Linked DNA regions of Homo sapiens. The protein of the gene in region 1 purifies or fractionates together with the protein of each later gene. This does not show direct contact. Each region holds a gene or a part of one and is shown in the gene's direction. Other genes may lie near its edges. The genes, in order: ATCAY, POPDC2, LPGAT1, CDCA7 and GLS.

Region 1 (3,516 bases):
GTGTGGGCACCGGGACGTGGTGGGTGGTGCGCGGGAGGCAGCTCAGGGCTGGGAGAGGACTCTGACGTTGCCGATCGGCTGCCTCTCCTCAGGGTACTACGGCGAAGGCCTCAACGCCATCATCGTCTTCGCAGCCTGCTTCCTTCCAGACAGCAGCCTCCCCGACTACCACTACATCATGGAGAACCTCTTCCTGTGAGTCCCCGCCCGCGGCGAGCAGCCTCGGGCCAGCTCTGATGCCTCCCTGGCCACAGGGGCACCAGGCTGCAAGGATTGCATTGTGGCCCTAGGAAGCCTGCCTGGCACCAGGGAAGGGCGTGGTGGCCACAGACCTTGATCTGAGTCCCTGCTGGCCCTGAGGCTCACAGTGGCCTTCCCTCTGGGCCACCCTGTTCTCCTCCCCGTCCTCCTCCTCCTCCTCTTCCTCCTCCTTCCCCTCCTCCTCACTGTCCTCCTCCTCCTCCCCTTCTTCCTCCCCCTTCCCCTTTCTTCTCCTCCTTCTCCTCCCCTTCTTCCTCCCCCCTCCTCCTCCCTTTTCTCCTCCTCCTCCCCTTCCCTCTCCTCCTCCCCCTCTTCCCCTTCCCTCTCCTCCTCCCCCCTCTTCCTTCTCCTCCTCTTCCTCCCCTTTCTCCACCTCATCCTCTTTCTCTTCCTCCCCTTTCTCCCCCCTTCCTCCTCCTTCTCCTCCTTCCCTCATCTTCCTCTCCTTCCCTCTCCTCCCCCTCCCCATCCTCCTCCTCCCCATCCTCTTCCCCTTCCTCCTCCTCTTCCCGCTCTGAGATGGCACCACTGCACTCCAGCCTGGGTGACAGAGTGAGAACCTGTCTCAAAAAAAAAAAAAAAAAAAAAAAGCAAGGCCTAGAGACCAGCCTGGCCAACATAGTGAAATCCTGCCTCTACTAAAACTACAATTTAGCTGGGCTCGGTGGCAGGCGCCTGTAATCCCAGCTACTAGGGAGGCTGTGGCAGGAGAATGGCGTGAACCTGGGAGGCGGAGCTTGCAGTGAGCCGAGATCGCACCACTGCACTCTAGCCTGGGCAACAGAGCGAGATTCCGTCTCAAAAAAAAAAAACGACTCAATAAAAGAGTAACTGCCCTATGAGGATGCCCGCTGACACTCATGTGGAGTGTGCTGGGATCATCCACGTCCTCTCCCACCCTGCAGTCCGCCAGGACAGCAGACAACACCTGGACCAGTGGGGCTGACCCAGCCAGCGGCAGGAGTGGAGGCAGGCAGGGTCGGCACCGCAGGTGTCCTGACCCTGGACCCCTCCATGTTGGGTCCCTGCCTTCTGTGCCCCGTGAGCAGGTACGTCATCAGCAGCTTAGAGCTCCTGGTGGCTGAGGACTACATGATCGTGTACCTGAACGGTGCCACGCCCCGGCGGAGGATGCCTGGAATCGGCTGGCTGAAGAAGTGCTACCAGATGATCGACCGGAGGTGAGGTGGGGATGCCTCAGGAAGCACAGTGGGGGCATGAAAATCACACAGGGGGCTGGACATGGTGGCTCACACCTGGAATCCCAGCACTTCGGGAGGCTGAGGTGGGAAGGTCCCTTGAGCCCAGGAGTTTGAGACCAGCCTGGGCAACGCAGCAAGACGCTGTCTCTACAGAAAAACTTTTAGGCCGGGCAAGGGGGCTCACACCTCTAATCCCAGCACTTTGGGAGGCCAAGGTGGGTGGATCACCTGAGGTCAGGAGTTCAAGACCAGCCCGGCCAACATATAGTGAAACCCCATCTCTACTAAAAAAATTCAAAAATTAGCTGGGCGTGGTGGCGCATGCCTGTAGTCCCAGCTACTTGGGAAGCTGAGGCAGGAGAATCACTTGAACCCAGGAGGTGGAGGTTGCAGTGAGCCGAGATCATGCCACTGCACTTCAGCCTGGGCAACAGAGCGAGACTCTGTCCCCATGAAACACTCACTCCCTATTCCTTCTCCCCAGGCTCCGGCACCCCCCATCCTACTTTCTGTCTCTGTAAATCTGATGACTCTAGGGACCTCCTAGGACTGGAATCACACAGGATTTGTCCTTTTGTGTCTGGCTTTCCTCACTGAGTGTGATGTCCTCAGGGTGCATCCACATTGTAGCCTGTGTCAGAGCCTCCTTCCTTTTCATGGCTGCATAATATTCCACTGTATGGACATACCACATTTGGTTTGTCCATTCCATTCATCTCTTGATGGACATGGGTTGCTTCCACCCCTGAGTTATTGTAAATAGCCTCAGAGTGACATTAAAATTGAGCCAGCCAATCCATCCTTGCACCCAGGTTAGTGGAGGGAGGCTCCAAGGACAGGCTGGTCCCTCCTAGGGCATTAGGTGGTGAAAATACAATCTTGGCTGCTCAAATAACTACCAACCTGGTTCACCTGCTCTGCACCATGGGGTCTCTACCTACCTCATCCACCTGAGGGTCTTAGGGACTCAAAGGGTGTGTCTTTATCCCACCATAGGACCCCCATGTCTTGGATGGGGGCAGGGATTTGACAGGTACCTGGAGACCACACGTGGAATGAGCAGAGTGACGAATGCTTGCTTGTGGCTCTCCCGTCCCACCCAGCTCCTCCCTCCCCAGGGCTCGCCCCAGGAGCCCATCTTGCTTCCTTTGCGGCCCCACACAGGTTGCGGAAAAACCTGAAGTCCTTGATCATCGTCCACCCCTCGTGGTTCATTCGGACTGTGCTGGCCATCTCTCGCCCTTTCATCAGGTGAGACGGGGAGGCTGCAACCCAAGTCCAGTGGCCTCAGTGTGCGTGTGTGCGTGTGTGTATGCATGCATTTGTGTGTGCATGTGTGCACGTGTGTGCGTGTGTGCATCTGTGTGTGTGTGCATCCATGTGTGTGTTTGATGTGCATGTTCCAGCTTCTCTATGATGAATACATATTATTGCTTTAAACAGTTTTAAATTGCACACAGCCAGGCACAGTGGCTGACACCTGTAATCCCAGCTACTCAGAAGGCTGAGGTGGGAGGATCGTTTGAGGCCAGCCTGAGCAACATAGCAAAACCCCCATCTCTACAAAAAATACAAAAATTAGCAGGACGTGGTGGTGCACACCTGTAGTTTCAGCTACTTGGGAGGCTCACGTGGGAGGATGGCTTGAGCCCAGGAGATCAAGGCTGCAATGAGCCGTGATCGAGCCACTGTACTCCAGCCTGGATGACAGAGTGAGACCCTGTCTCAAAAGAAAATCAGTCATGCATGGCATCACATGCCTGTAGTCCCAGCTACTCAGGAGGCTGAGGCAGGAGGATCACTTGAGCCCAGGAGGTAGAGGCTGCAGTGAGCTATGATCACTCCACTGCACTCCAGCCTGGGAGACAGAGCAAAACAACCCTGTCTCTAAAAATAAAATATATATATATGTATGTATAAATAAATAAATAATATGACTAATAAATTTAAAATTTAAAACTACATATATTCTATAATGTATATCATATATAGTTACTATATTAAACATATAGTAAAACAGATCAAGTGAAATAAAATTAGGCATGTTAAATGC
Region 2 (4,240 bases), on another chromosome or scaffold:
CGCCACCACGCCCAGCTAATTTTTATACTTTTAGTAGAGACAGGGTTTCCACCATGTTGGCCAGGCTGGTCTCGAACTCCAGCCTCACTCAGGTGATCCACCCGCCTCAGCCTCCCAAAGTGCTGCGATTATAGGCGTAAGCCACTGTGCCCAACTAACATTTCTTAGCCTAATGTTTGCATACTCCAGCTTTATCTCTTGGCAGCCCAAAGTAGATTCCTAGGTTCAACCAGAAGTTCCTTGAAAATTGTCAGACTTCATAGAAGTGTGGAGTTGGGAGTCATGGATCTAGTACTGTACTTCCACTTACTGGCAAACCCCTTGGGACAGAGTATTAAGTTTGACAGACTTGGGTTCAAATCCTGGCTCTGCCACTTAGACCATCTGTGGGAGCTTGTTACCTCTCTGAGCCTCAGTTTCTTCCAGATCTAGAAGGAGAATAATATTTATTTTGAAGGATTGTTGTCACAACTAACTTATAAGTGTATAAAATGCCTAATCTAGGTTTGGCACTTCATGGGTGTTTAATAGGTGGGAATTATAATTTGGAAGCACCGGAGTGGGTGGGATGATGATCTGGGCAATGTATTATTATTTGTTTACTATTACCAGATCCAGATATATGCAGGGGAAAGCCAGCTTAGAATTCAAAAAGCCACTTTACATAGCTACTTTTGTTAAATGGATGTCAAATAAATACATAATGATATTTGCAGTGTGACTTAATAAAGGCCTTCAGGGGGTTTTCCAGCTTTCACTGTTAGGATTTTTTCTGATAATAGTCCCATACTTTCCTACTCTGATGTGTCCTCACTCAGAAGCACTGTCTGGCTCTCCCCAAAGGGAGCTCGGGACAGTTTCCTGCCTGAGGTGTTCAGGTGAATTCTGTGCTCACTTTTCCTTTCTCTCTCCTTGTCTGTCTCTCTGACCCTGAGGTCTTATCTTGTCCTCTGGGAGGTATGTTAAGTGCTCTGCCAGGCTGCCTGTGCCTGGCCTGTTTTTTCTCACTGCCAGTACCTCTTGGATTCCAATTCCAAACATGGTATCCATCTGGGGTCACCCTTTCTTCCGGTGCCAAGAGAGAACACATTCCAAATGGAACACAAATGTGCCTCCCATGCTGGCTCTCCTCATTCTGCTTGGGAAAAACAGAGAGCAGGATGTGGCCGCATCATCCCACGCTGCTGGACTTTTCAGTCCTGTAGTGCTACTTTCCCTTGGGACTATTTAGGTTTTTCTGCTAAGAACCAAATTTGAAGACTCCCAAGAAACATGGAACCAAGGAAGCTTGCCAGAGCTCTGCAGGGAGAGCCAGAGCCTTGCTGAGACAGCGGGGGTGGTGGGGAGGAGAGAGGGGGGGAGAGGGGGAGAGAGAGAGAGAGAGAGAAAGAGGTTTTTAAATTCTCCATGAAGTGTACTATGTTCCATCATTCCTTCCCAAAGCCACCGGAAGCATTCCTTCTAGGAAAGGTGGAGTCGGTAGTGAGAAGCCGGAGGTGAGAAGACCCCTGAGCGGATGGATTCATTCATTTTCTGAATTTCCTATGTGAGGACAGTATTAGAGCCCAGTGAGGCTTTGAGAGGCCCCAAAGATGAGCGCCAACAGCAGCAGAGTGGGCCAGCTTCTCTTGCAGGGTTCAGCGTGCATTAGGTGGAAGCAGGATGTGGAAGGGGCTGTCTACCACCTAGCCAACTGCCTCTTACTCCTGGGCTTCATGGGGGGCAGTGGGGTGTATGGATGCTTCTATCTTTTTGGCTTCCTGAGTGCAGGTTACCTGTGCTGCGTGCTGTGGGGCTGGTTCAGTGCCTGTGGCCTGGACATTGTTCTTTGGAGCTTCCTGCTGGCTGTGGTCTGCCTGCTCCAGCTGGCACACCTGGTATACCGCCTGCGTGAGGACACCCTCCCTGAGGAGTTTGACCTCCTCTACAAGACGCTGTGCCTGCCCTTGCAGGTGCCCCTACAGACATACAAGGAGATTGTTCACTGCTGCGAGGAGCAGGTCTTAACTCTGGCCACTGAACAGACCTATGCTGTGGAGGGTGAGACACCCATCAACCGCCTGTCCCTGCTGCTCTCTGGCCGGTAAGCTACTCTATCCATTGCCCAGAATTTCTTTCCCCAGCCCACACTTCTCATTTCCTAGTGTGTCCCTTTCCATTTCATGTCCCTTTCCATTTCGTGTCCCCTTCCATTGAGGGAAGGATGTGACAAGTCAAACAAACCAAAATAGATTTTTCTAAGAGTGGGGTTGCTTCCTCTTTCTTGGCATTTTCCAAGAAGAAACCAGTTCATGAGGCATCTTGGTTGGCAAGAATGATTGTATGTGCACTTGCTGCTGGAAGGTGTGCAGTGCGTGTGTCTTGAGCCTGGGCCTTAAATAACCCCTCTACCATCACCACACACATATCAGTGTGTCATGCCTAAGCTGCAGCAATATCTCTGTAAGCTTTGAAAAACTAACATTTCAATAAGGTTAATCTGTTCCTTACTCAAATTCAACATTTGCTAAGCACCAACTGTATTCAGGGAACAATGCCAGAAATGGGAGGTCGGGATAGCGGGGTGGTTCTCATAACCCCTGTTCCCTGCCAAGGCATCAAGCAAACAGCCCCACTTGTGTTTGGGGTAGCTGTATGTAGCCAGGTAGGGAGAGTGAATACCCCTTGCCCACCTTTCCATTTCCAGTTGTTCTATTGAGGTTCTTGAAGACTAAGAAGTCAAGTACAGTACTGTAAATCTGAGGGCCCAACAATGGGAGAAGAGAAGTGATACACCTATCTCATCAAGGCTTTTGTGGAAGCACCGCCTCTTTTGGAGAAGGCTGACAGTCAGATATGGGCAGAAATGGTCTTAGTCAGGATCAGTGTATGCCCAGTCAACCTGGATGTGAATGTTGGGCATTGATTTCTTCTGAGAAAACATCACGGGGCTCTGTGCTACACACTTAGTAGGCAATTGTGGATTTTTTTATACTGCCCTAGTGGCTCTTGAGCCCCACAACCCCCACTCCACCAGCTTTCTTGAGACCAGGAGAATGTGATAGAAAAGGTAAGATGGCAATTAGAAGGCTCCAATTCCAAGAAAAAAAAAAAAAAAAAGCAAATCCAGATAATACTGCCAACCACACAATGGAGAAAAAAGTTTGACAATGATGCTAATGGTACTACAACTACCACTAATAGTAATAATACGTGTTTGTGTATTCATTTATAGAACCTGAAGTATCATGTATATATGTTTTGATTTTGTTTGAACTCAGAGGTCCTGGATAGAGTGAGCTAGGAGGGGAGACATTTTGTGAGGGTACATTTCATTTCATTTATTGGTGAACTGAAAGTGTAAACCAATGCGATTATTTGTAAACAGATATAGATGTAAATACAAATACATATAACTATTGTGAAAATGTTTGCACCTATAGTTCCATGCTTAAAGACAATTTAGGGAACTTGCTCATTCATGAGACCCATGATGTTATAGCTCGTCTGTTCAAAGGAGGAAATTGAGAGCAGCAGAAGTGCTCCCTCCAGTGTAGGGTGCCCATTTGCTGGAAGCATGTATGGTTACTGTATAGTTCAGTTAGGATAGATTTACTGTGAACTTGTATAAGATCACTTCCCAGTGAAGGGGAGAGGGGGGCTTGCCCTTGGTGTAGCTTTTCCTGGTATACTTAGCATCAAAAGGCTGAGTCAGAAATTAGACAATTTTGATTTTTTTTTTTCCTGCCTTTCAAGGTTTGGAGTAAGAGTTTTGTTATCTTTCAGTGTCACCCTGTCTCAGCTTTGCTGAGCTGGACATAGAGGAAAAGGCTTCTAGTCTATGACTGGGCTCTAGTTTTAAAGGAGAATCACTGAACCTTGGGCTGGTTACAGTAAGGGACCAAACATCTCAAAGCAGCAGACAAGAACTTTGTGCCAGGAAGTGGGGACTCTTGTGCAGACTTCCACATCTCACATGCACACTGTTCTCTAGAGTCCTTCACTCAAACCTCAGAAGTCTTTTTGTTTTGTTTTAATAAAGGAAACCAATCTCTTTCAAAACTCAGAGAGGGAAAGTGACTTTCTCAAAGTCTATCACCCTGTTAAGCAGCGCTTAACTTAGACGTTTCTCTCATATAAAATTCAAAACACAAACTTCCATATATACAACCCCCTGAGCAGGCAACTAACTATCTAAGCTATTCATTTAGGAGAAGATCATCCATCTTCCAGTAGATCAAGAAGGAAGAAGAAACAGATG
Region 3 (3,516 bases), on another chromosome or scaffold:
CACAGATTTTGGGGGGACATGAATTTTTGGAGTATACTGTTCAACCCAGTACAGAGGGTTCCAAATTCAATTTATGTTTTCATATTTAAACCAGTCACACTTACTAGATTTATCTGATTTATATAAAGCAAACAGGTAAGATATATTTTATGTAAAAACTTATTCTTATTTGCAGTTATATTGACATATATGCCTTCCCACTGCATGGGCCTAGGTATCTAGTATTTTCCACTCATGTAGCACAGATTGCGTTAAAGGACTATTTGGTGATGAGACATCTATTAATACAGATGGAGAGCCAGAAAACTGTCCACATTACCTCTTAATAGCCCACTATTTATAGAACCAAGCTAGACTTTTCTTGAGTTTTAACTGCTGTTCACTTTAGAATAATACTTGAAATGTTCTTACTTATTTTATATCCACAACACCTAACCATGCCTGATGCTGATTTATTGAATGAAGATTGTATTAATGAAAGAATGTTGTGCATGTGTGTGTGTGTTTGTGTGTTTGTATGTCCGTGTGTCTCCATTGGAGGGTTGTCAACAGGGGCATATGGGGAGTTTTCATTTGGTTAGTATATTCTCTGTCCTTTTTAAAAACATAACTAGGCTGGGCGCGGTGGCTCAGGCCTGTAGTCTCAGCACGTTGGGAGGCCGAGGTGGGCGGATCACCTGAGGTTGGGAGTTGAAGACCAGCCTGACCAACATGGAGAAACCCCGTCTCTACTAAAAATACAAGATTAGCCGGGCGTGGTGGCGCATGCCTGTAATCCCAGCTACTTGGGAGGCTGAGGCAGGAGAATCGCTTGAACCTGGGAGTCGGAGGTTGCGGTGAGCTGAGATCACGCCATTGCACTCCAGCCTGGGCAACAAGAGCGAAACTCCGTCTCAAAAACAAAAAAACCAAACAAACAAAAAACACAACTAGTGGCATCCATCATCCTATTCTACACTTTGCTTTTATTACTTAAAGTATATCATTTCATCTTAGTACATAAGTGCTATGTTTGCATAATATTCCATTGCATAGATATAATTTATTTAGGTAGTCTCCCTTAAAAATGTTTTTAATTGTGGTAAAATACGCTAACATAAAATTCACCATCTTAATTTTTCAAGTGTACAGTTCAGTCTTGTTAAGTATATTCACATTGTTGTGGAACCGATATCTAAAACTTTTCCATCTTGTAAAACTGAAACACTGTACTCATTAAACAACAATTTCCCCCTCCCCCAGCCCCTGGCAACCACCATTTCTATGAATTTGAGTTAGCTTCTCTTTCTAGTTGTTTTCATCTTTGCTTTTACAATCAAAGCTGCAGTGAGTAGCCTTGTGTACATGTCATTTTGCACATAAATGAGTATATCTGTAGGATGCATTTCTAGAAGTAGAATTCCTAGGTAAAAAGGTTTGTGCATTTATTAATTTTGAAATATAGTGCAAAATTGGCTTCTAAACAGGTCTCCCTATCCCTATTTCATCCTGAGCTTTTACACACAGGTGGCTTGAATTCTTTCCTTGCAGCAGTGAGTGAGATAAGGTTAGGGTAAAGAATACTAATGTAGAATTGGCCTTTGATAATTCATATCAAAAAATGCTAGAAGATTCTTTGCAGAATTCTGATGTTTGAAAACTGAGGCTTGACATAAATTTACTGTAAAATGAGGTGGCCGAGTGCAGTGGCTCATGTCTGTAATGTCAATACTTTGAGAGGCTGAAGCCGGTGGATTGCTTGAGCCCAGGAGTTTGAGATCAGCCTGGGCAACATGGCAAAACCCTGTGTCTACAAAAAAAATACAAAAGTTAGCTGGACTTGGTGACATGCACCTGTATAGTCCCAGCTACTTGGGAGGCTGAGGTAGGAGGGTCACTGAGCCCAGGGAGCTTGAAGCTGCAGTGAGCCATTGTGATTGCACCATTGCACTCCAGCCAAGGTAACAGAGCAAGATCCTGTCTCAAAAAAGTTAAAAATAAATATAAAATGAAATGAGGCATAACTACATAGAAATACCACTGTTTCCCTTAGAATGTACGTATAGATTTTGGCGCAGTGACTTTTCATCTGATAACTTCAAATAATTTGGCATTTGTATTAGTTTTATTATTTTAAGGTGAAAGTATGCATTATTATGTCTGAATGTTTTCTTATAAAATAGAATCTGAAGGGTTGGGAACCACCTCTCATTGATGATCGGTATTAACAGTTTGAAATTTATTTTTCTAGACGTTTTTCAGTGCATTGAACAACACATGGATGGTATTCCTGCTTTAAAAAGATGGGATCATGCTATATTTACTGTTTTGTGATTTGCTTTGTTAGTTGATAATACATCTTTTTTGGGTTAGTGAATAAGAGATATCCTCCATTATTTTAACGGGTTTATACTCTCCTATTACATCATAATTTTCTTGTCCATTCCCTTGTTGGTGAACATTTAAGTTGTGATAAACATTCTTTATACATATATCTTTGCTTATTTGAACAAGTTTCTGTAGGATAAATTCTAGGAAATAGAACTTCTAGATCAAAGGTATGACCATAGCTGGGCACAGTGGCTCACGCCTGTAATCTCAGCACTTTGGGAGGCCAAGGCAGGTGGATCACTTGAGGTCAAGAGTTTGAGACCAGCCTGGCCAATATGGTGAAACCCCATCTCTACTAAAAATACAAAAATCAGCTGGGCGTGGTGGTGTGCACCTGTAATCCCAGCTACTTGGGAGGCTGAGGCAGGAGAATTGCTTGAACCCGGGAGGTAGAGGTTGCAGTGAGCCAAGATCGCACCACTACACTCCAGCCTGGGTGACAGAGCTAGACTCTGTCTCAAATATAAATAAATAAATAAATAAATAAATAAATAAATAAATAAATAATGATAATTTTATATTTTAATGTATATTTGGGGGCTCTATAAAAGTTATATTAACATTCTGATTTGCACAGGAAATAAACTTAGTTCTAAACTTTCGGATGTTTTAGCTAGGTGACATATCATCATTAATATACATCATTTTTTCTAATATAAGGTTTGTGATAATATAAAAATCTTTAAAATGACAGCTTTGAAACTTTTTTGTTCTTACAGTGATGGAATGGGGAGAAGATATTAAAGCAGTTTCAAAAGATGAAGCAGTGATGTTGGTGAATCATCAGGCAACAGGAGATGTGTGCACACTGATGATGTGCCTCCAGGACAAAGGACTGGTAAGCTACCCTGAAGGCAGTAGATAGACATCCAGAAAGGAAGGTTAAAAAGGAATCCATTTGGCCGGGCATGGTGGCTCATGTCTGTAATCCCAGCACTTTGGGAGGCTGAGGTGGGTGGATCATGAGGTCAAGAGATCGAGGCCATCCAGGACAACAGGGTGAAACCCCATCTCTACTAAAAATACAGAAATTAGCTGGGCGTGGTGGTGTGCACCTGTAGTCCCAGTTACTCGGGAGGCTGAGGCAAGAGAATTGCTTGAACCCGGGAGGCAGAAATTGCAGTGAGCCGAGATCACGCCACTGTA
Region 4 (4,125 bases), on another chromosome or scaffold:
CCAAATTTTCATATATTTAGCTTTAGTGGCACAAAATTATATTCCCAAATGTTTATTCATTCAACAAATACTTACTGAGGGCCCTGTAATTCCGTAATTTCACCACCCACCGATAGCCTCTCCTCCTGGCACTCACCTTCTAGACCTTGAGCTCTTTGTCCCTTGCACAGTGGCAGAGTGATTACTGGGTAGGTATATTTAAGAAAGGCTGGAAGACTCCTTCCAATCCATTGTCCTCGGGCATTATTTACTTGCTCACAGTTTTTGTATTCAGTACACCAAGAGAGGAACACAGTATGTCCATGCACTCTCTTACTGCAAAGGAATTAATTATTCCCCAGAGAAAAGTTTTGAAATGAGGGGGAAATGCGAATGTTTTCATTTCAAGCGCTTGTTTTAAATGTTAAGAGTATAATTAGTGTCTTCTAAAGAAACTAAATTTACTTTTTCTTGTAGAAGCAAGTTTTGCTCTTCACGCACACAAAAAGCCTCGCTTTATTTCATTTTTTCGTTGTAATGCCAAGTTTGGTTAAAAGGGCAATGAAAAGTTTTCTCGTTCGCACTGACTCAGGGTAGTTCTCAATTCTGAAGACAGAGAAGATCATCAAGCCACAATTGTTCAATCTTTAGTTTCAATCCCCAACAGATAATCGTTAAAGGTTAACTATACTATAGACGTCTTCATCAAGCTGCTGCGGCTTTTCTTCTACTTTGAAAACCACAAGTAAACAAGTCGGCTTCCTGTGCTTTTTGGAAAGAAAGATCAGGATTTAACTCATTTTATTGCTTCAGATAATGGTGTGGTTCCCAGATAAGAGGTGCTACATCCAGGGGCGGTGAACTCGATTATGAAGGGTGGAGTTCGTGCTGGATTCTATGATTTTTTAAATCTTGTAAACCGCACGCAGCAATGAAAGTGCTAAACGCCATGGTGCGTGACCCGCGCCACCCTCACGCTGCTCTCCTTTACCCCCCAGACTCCACTTTTCCTCCGCCACCACGAAAATTCTTGCAAATCAGACAGCTAACCCCGGGGCAATACGAACCATTTTCGCGCCACTCGCTCAGGACCGCGCAGCTGCACAAGGAGAGTGGTCCCCGTAGCCCCTAAAGCCCCCCTTTCTCAAAGGGGATTTTAGGAGTGCCCAAGGCTATCCTTTGAGGTCAGAATATATAGGGGGGTCGTGTTTTTTCCAGGGGGCCACCTAGTCTTGCGCCATGTCTGGCCGTTACCACAGCTTGCAGGACCTGTGTCCCAACGCGGGAAAGACAGCCCGAGCCCCGCCCCTCCGGGCCCGGGTCGGCGCGCCCAGCCTGCCAGCCGCGCTGCTGCTGCTCCTCCTGCTGTGGGACCGCTGACCGCGCGGCTGCTCCGCTCTCCCCGCTCCAAGCGCCGATCTGGGCACCCGCCACCAGCATGGACGCTCGCCGCGTGCCGGTGAGGGCTGGGCGGGCGAACCCGAGGGGCGGGCGCGGTGGGTGCTGGACGCAGGCGGGCGCGGGCCGACCCTCTCCAACTCCGCAGCCTAGCGCTGCCTTAACTGGTGGCCTGCCTAGGCGTTGCCCGCTTGGGCAAGCCCCTGATTTTGTGCACCTGGGATAACTGAGGGCCATGGGGACGTTCCTGCGTGGCGTGCGCACCCGAAGTGCGGGCGGCGTGGAGACTTGAGTCGTTTGCAGGATGGCTAGCAGCGCTGGAAAGCCCTAGGCACGTGCGTCCGCCAAAGGCCGGACAGCGGCCGGGAGCGCTGGCCGGTCCCGATTTTGCCTGCCAGGCAGAGCCAGCCTGCCTGCCCCCTGGGAGGTTGTCCCGCAGCGGCCCAGCCCTTTCCCGCACACAACTCGGAGCCAGTGCGTGGCTCGCCGCGTCTATACCCGCGCTCAGTGGGTGGCCCTTGGGCGCGCACCCCGCCCGGCAAGAGACGCGTCCGCTTCTAACCGCTGAGGGCCAGCGCGTCTGAGGTTTAAGGTCTTGCGAACCGGTCTCCTAGAACTTGGGCTGCGCACGCAGTGTGAAGCGACCGTAGTCCCGGGCGGTGGTTAAGTGCATTTAAAGGGCTTGGTGGGTCAAAGCGTTCGCCGACCATTTGCTCGTTTCCTACTTCCTCCACCCCAACCCCCAACCCCCCACCCCCCACCCCCCAGCCTTACTCTTAGCTGCAGGACGTTGCTCTGAGTGGAACGTTACTTTTTGCTCTAACGGAAGCCAGAACGTAGGGTCGGGCTCCTGGAGAGGGTAGAAGAGTGGGGGTTGGGTGAAACGGAAGACAATGACATGTTTAAAATAAATATCAGGGGTTAGGGACCCTCGCGGGGGTGGGTGCGATGGGGCGTGGTTTCAGAGCTGAGTCGCCGCCCCGGTGGAGCTGGGCATTGGCTTTCCGGATGAAGAAAACCATGTGTAGCTGGTCTTGGAACCTGACATGCCTGAGTTCAAATCTGAGCCACCATGGGACTTGAGTAATCCATTTCGCTTTCCTGAGCCTCAGTTTCCTCATTGGCTAAGTGAGAATAACGATAGCACCTTTGTTGCAAAGAATTAAACCTGACGTGAAAGTGTACTTAACATAGTGCCTGGCACGAAAAACGCCTACTATAAATGGTATTAGTTATTACTTACCTGCCAAAGAAGTTCATCTCCGTCTTGACTATTTGCCTTGCTGCTTTTTTGTGGCTTTTCCTCCAAAGATACGTTTGCCTGGTAAATAACTCTTGGCTTGTGCTGACTTGTTAAAGCTCAGCCTGTATTTCTCGGACAGCTTCCAATAGAATGCCGCCTTTGAGGCTGTCTGGGGCCTCTGACTGCTTGCAGGTAGATTGATGAGTAAAGGGTGGTAATTCCTGCAGTAATGCGATGAACACTGCTGCTTAAGAAGATGGCAGACTTGAGTTCTCCTTCCTGCCCCTGTGATCTTGCAGTCTATTACACCTTCCTGGGGCCTTGAATATCCTCATCTGGAAAATGGGATCTGAGATCCTTTTCAGCTCCCAACATTCATTGTGTCCCAGGCTGGAGTGCAGTGGCACAGTCACGGCTCACTGCAGCCTACCGGGCTCAAGCAGTCTTCCCACCTCAGCCTCCCAAGTAACTGGGATTACATGTACGCACCGCCACATCCGGCTGATTTTTGTGTTTTTAGTAGAGACGGGGTTTCACCATATTCCCCACGCTGGTCTCGAACTCGTGGGCTCAAGTGATCCTCCCACCTTGGCTTCCCAAAGCGCTGAGATTACAGGTGTGAGCCACCCCCCTACACATACACCTAACCTTTATATTTAGTAGCTCTACCTTTTACACGTTGTCCTGCCTTGTTAAGAGGGCAAAAGACAAAAACTTCCTAAGATGATTGAACGGAGTTTACTTAGGGGTATAGGGATGTTGGGAGTGCCATCATCATGAAAATAACTTTATCTGCAAGAGACTGAAATGCGTAATGTTAGGCCAAGAAGGAGGGCAAGAATGTTCTGGTCACCTGACATCTTACATCTTAGCATATTTTGTAGAATCTATACCAGAGCTTGCCCTTTCAAAGTTTTCAGTGTAAGGAATCACTTCTGCTATTCCATGGCCCCATTTAAGGAATAAAAACACAGGACCTAATGCAACACTTAGGAAATCTCGTTAAATATTAAGAAATGACAAACCACTATCCTTTTTTTATACAAGATAGATGCCAATTACATTTTCTGAGAGCAGTGCCAGGCTGTTCAGTATTTATGAATGAATGAAGCATTTCTATGTAAGTAATTTGCACTTTATAAAAGGACTTTTAAAAACTTAAGTCTTGTATAGCAAAGGGACAGCAACAAGAACTGAATGACAGCCTCAAGTAATAGAGTGCTAAAATGGAATCCGGTATCCCACCTGCATTTGGAGTGCTATTTGATCTTTAACTTGGCTCCTTGTACCATTTGTTGAAGCGTTTGATGTATTTGCTTTGTAAGGACTTCTGTGGAAATCACGATAGCCCTCTTGATTGGAAAGGGGCCTGCTTGGAAGCCTGCCATCTTGAAGTAGAGGTCCTGCCCAGTTTTTGTAGTTTGTGAAATTAGCATCACAGTACATAGCCCAAAGCTTACATAAAAATACCTCATTAGCTTGATTTTGGCTGAGGGAGAAAAATC
Region 5 (3,516 bases), on another chromosome or scaffold:
CAAACTTTGCCTCAGCCTCACCTGTGAACAAAACCCTTGTAAGGTTCATATGCTTAGCAGCTTGAAAAGCTTCTTTTGATATAATATGAAAGAATGCTGTGTATTTTATTGCCTTTGGGGAAAATAAATACTTGTTAAAATTGATCTTTTTTTGCATTATAGTTTAAAGCATGTTCATAAATTTCAGATGTCACCCATGTCCATTTTGTCAGTATAACACGCTCTGATATTTCGTTACTTTAAATGATAGCCTTTATTAGTGTTGTAGGTTATTTCTGCCATTCAAAACTTTTTTAAATTAAAAATTCTAAATTAAACCCATCAACTCCATCTTACCTTAAGACAGAGCAGGGAAGCAAGAAAATTTCACGGTCATAGGTCTTAGGCCGAGGTTTTATACTGCAGTTAGGCTGGTGGTGTGTTACATTCTCTCTGGCGGGTTTCCGGATGTTCAGATGTCTGGCTTTTGAGCCAAAGGCAGAATGAGCAATTACATACATCTGAAAATTGGGCTGTCATGCCTTAAAATGATTTAGTGTTCTTTAAGACATCTTGAGTGTAGTATATGTAGCATTTGCAGAGTATTTATCATTTGGAAAATATTTAATACTCACATTTATGTGATACCATTTGGAGTACATAGATTAGCAGTCTTCTAGGACTGTAGAGTCTAAGCCTGATAATGTCAAAAGCTCTGAAATGACAGATAATAAACATCCATACAAATAAAAGTATAAACTAATTTATACTAATTTAAACTAATTTAAACTAATTTGGGATAGGCAAATCTTGATTGTAATAATCAGATATAACACAAAGATTTTATTTTAACTTTTGAAACTTGGCATTATGAATACACCCAAAATGTAGGATATTTTTCTTTTTATTTATTTATTTTTAATTGACAGATAAAAATTGTGTATATGGTATACAACATAGTGATTTGAAATATATATGCATTGTGGAATGGCTAAATCAAAGTAACATACATTACTTCATATATTTATTTGTAATGAGAAGACAAAGTATGCTTTCTTAACAATTTTCAAGTACATATAATACTTGTTATTAATTATATCATGTTATAAAATAGATCTCTTGAACTTATTCCCCCTGTGTAACTGAAATTATGTGTCCTTTGACCAACATCTGGCAATCCCTTCTCCCCCCTCCCCCACTTCTGGTAACCACCAGGTAGATAAATTAAGATGTTGAGGTTCGCTTGTAAATAGATGTTTTCACTGTCCCCAAGATTTTATTTTTGGTGCTTGTGTCATGCAGTGAATGAGAATATAATCAGTTGAGTTTTGAAATTCTTATTTATTGTAAGAATTAGGAGAAGAAATAGGAGTTTGGATTAATGTAAAGTTTTAAGTAACTTTAAAATTATATAAGAAATACAAATATACCTTTATTGTCAGGAAATACAGAAAGCCTAAAAATATCCCCTATAGGCTGTGCATGGTGGCTCATGCCTATAATCCCAGCACTTTGGGAGGCCAAGGCGGGAGGATTGCTTGAGTCCTGGAGTTTGAGTCCAGCCTGGGCAACATAGGGAGATCCTGTCTCTACAGAAAATAAAACATTAGCCAGGTGTGGTATGTGCCTGTGGTCCCAGCTTCTTTGGAGTCTGAGGCTGGAGGATCACTTAAGCCTGGGAGGTCAAGGCTTCAGTGAGCCATGATTGTGCCACTGCACTTCAGCCTGGGCGACAGTCTGAAACTTTGGCTCTTAAAAAAAAAATCCCTTATAATTTTATTATTCTATGTAAATCACTTGTTTGTGTTTTGAAATCCTTCTGTGTATGTGCTTGTATATAAAGATAAAAATAAAGCACTAAGAAAAAAGCAAAATTGAGTACGTTAGCTGTGCTTTTTCCAAGGTCATTTTTAGTATAGTAATATTACTCAAGTGTTTAAGTATTTGAAATAATGGTATTGCTTTTATATTTTACAGATAAACCACATAATCCTATGGTAAATGCTGGAGCAATTGTTGTGACTTCACTAATAAAGGTAAAATGTTGATGTTTCATTTTAACCTAGTAAAACTTTTTTTTTTTAACAGCTAAGGCATAAAGATGAATCTGGGATTATTTATGTAGAATTATGAAAAATTTTCTCTTGGTGTTAAGAAATTTGTCTTATGGTATAGTGTTAGGATCTTTATTTCAAAATAAATGATGTAGTCATTTCAAGGCAAAATTAAAACAGATGACTCATTGTAAATTCCAACAGTCATTTACTCTTGACTTGAAGATCTGGAAAATATTTAAAGTCTGCTGAAGAAAGGCATAGAGGCTTTTTTTTTTTTTTTAAAGTTTTGATATTTTTCCTTTCGTTTCCTTTTGGTTCTTCCAGAATGAACAGTTATAAATAGAATTAAAGGCATTTTACTGTATATTTGTTATTAGTATATGTGGGAACAAATGTTCTGGTACTTAAGACAAAGTACATTTACCCTCAAATATTCTCAAGTCTTTGATACTCTCATGAGCTGAAATCACAGTTTTTATTGGAACTTGTTTCATTTGGTTTTACTTAAATCATGCCATAATTAAAATAAATAAGGCTTATTCCAATTATGGAGTTATATTTTCTTATGCTTTGAAATTTGCATTGTAAGGGTTTTTTTTTTTTTTAGTGTTTGGTTTGCGTTAATAATTGGAAGATCTAGTATTTTAAAATAAGTATTTGAAAATGGTTCCTGTGTGATAGATTTTTAAATCTACCACACGATTTTAGATGTTTCAGATTTTTAATTTCTAATTATAAATTTTATTTATATTTAAATAAATTTTATTTATGTTTGGAACATTTGTATACTTCTTTGGTAAATCTGTGCCTATCTATTCCAAGTTAGAGGAAAGCATAACTACATGGCCTTGTAAATGCATTACTGTGGATAAGGTACCCTGGTTACATGAAGGATATTTGAGTATAAATGATACCCTTGGCCCAGTTCACAAAATTTCATCTAACTTGTATACTAGAAAGCCTTTCTTAACTTTTAAGAGTTTTATATCTGTGAGAAAAAGCTTTTAAAATAGAAGGCTGGTATCTTAAGAATCTATATGTTTACTTGTTACTTCAAGGCAAATTCTTTGAAAGTATTGGCCCATTTAATTCTTATAACTCTAATGAAGTAGATGTTATAGCCAAGTGTTTTTAAAATGTAACTAATTGTAATAGGATATGGAGAAAGCTGTCAGTTTGAGCTGAAAGAAACTTGAAAATGCGATTATTTGCAAGGCACAGTCCTAGCTTTAGGTAGCTTACTTTGTAGTGTGGGATATGCAAAAGTAAATGGGTCCTTATAAGAAAATTCAATAAATGCTGTGATGAGAGAAAAGCCTCATTAATAATTGCTTAGATTTGAACAAGTAACTTAAAGTAGAAATAAGGAAACACATACTATAATGTATGTGTTAATGCTTGATGACAAAAACACCAAAAGTGTTTCTTCCCAGAAAAATATCCACATACCATAATTTTACATAAACTTTCAGGTGTTCAC

Evidence for each region.
Region 2: the proteins of ATCAY (region 1) and POPDC2 purify together in Homo sapiens (co-immunoprecipitation; one large-scale study listed by IntAct). This does not show direct contact.
Region 3: the proteins of ATCAY (region 1) and LPGAT1 purify together in Homo sapiens (co-immunoprecipitation; one large-scale study listed by IntAct). This does not show direct contact.
Region 4: the proteins of ATCAY (region 1) and CDCA7 purify together in Homo sapiens (co-immunoprecipitation; one large-scale study listed by IntAct). This does not show direct contact.
Region 5: the proteins of ATCAY (region 1) and GLS purify together in Homo sapiens (affinity purification with western blotting, with the first as the bait; one study listed by BioGRID). This does not show direct contact.

What each region holds. Positions count from the first base shown.
Region 1 is NC_000019.10:3,908,176-3,911,691, forward strand, and holds part of ATCAY (caytaxin), read left to right. Parts: intron 1-92; coding exon 93-195; intron 196-1,310; coding exon 1,311-1,442; intron 1,443-2,627; coding exon 2,628-2,714; intron 2,715-3,516.
Region 2 is NC_000003.12:119,657,776-119,662,015, reverse strand, and holds the start of POPDC2 (popeye domain-containing protein 2), read left to right. Parts: upstream 1-1,426; 5' UTR 1,427-1,592; coding exon 1,593-2,083; intron 2,084-4,240. UniProt on the Homo sapiens protein: Important for the maintenance of cardiac function.
Region 3 is NC_000001.11:211,792,764-211,796,279, reverse strand, and holds part of LPGAT1 (acyl-CoA:lysophosphatidylglycerol acyltransferase 1), read left to right. Parts: intron 1-3,089; coding exon 3,090-3,208; intron 3,209-3,516. UniProt on the Homo sapiens protein: Lysophospholipid acyltransferase involved in fatty acyl chain remodeling of glycerophospholipids in the endoplasmic reticulum membrane.
Region 4 is NC_000002.12:173,353,547-173,357,671, forward strand, and holds the start of CDCA7 (cell division cycle-associated protein 7), read left to right. Parts: upstream 1-1,325; 5' UTR 1,326-1,417; coding exon 1,418-1,438; intron 1,439-4,125. UniProt on the Homo sapiens protein: Participates in MYC-mediated cell transformation and apoptosis; induces anchorage-independent growth and clonogenicity in lymphoblastoid cells. Insufficient to induce tumorigenicity when overexpressed but contributes to MYC-mediated tumorigenesis.
Region 5 is NC_000002.12:190,908,307-190,911,822, forward strand, and holds part of GLS (glutaminase kidney isoform, mitochondrial isoform 1 precursor), read left to right. Parts: intron 1-1,956; coding exon 1,957-2,015; intron 2,016-3,516. UniProt on the Homo sapiens protein: Catalyzes the first reaction in the primary pathway for the renal catabolism of glutamine. Plays a role in maintaining acid-base homeostasis. Regulates the levels of the neurotransmitter glutamate, the main excitatory neurotransmitter in the brain.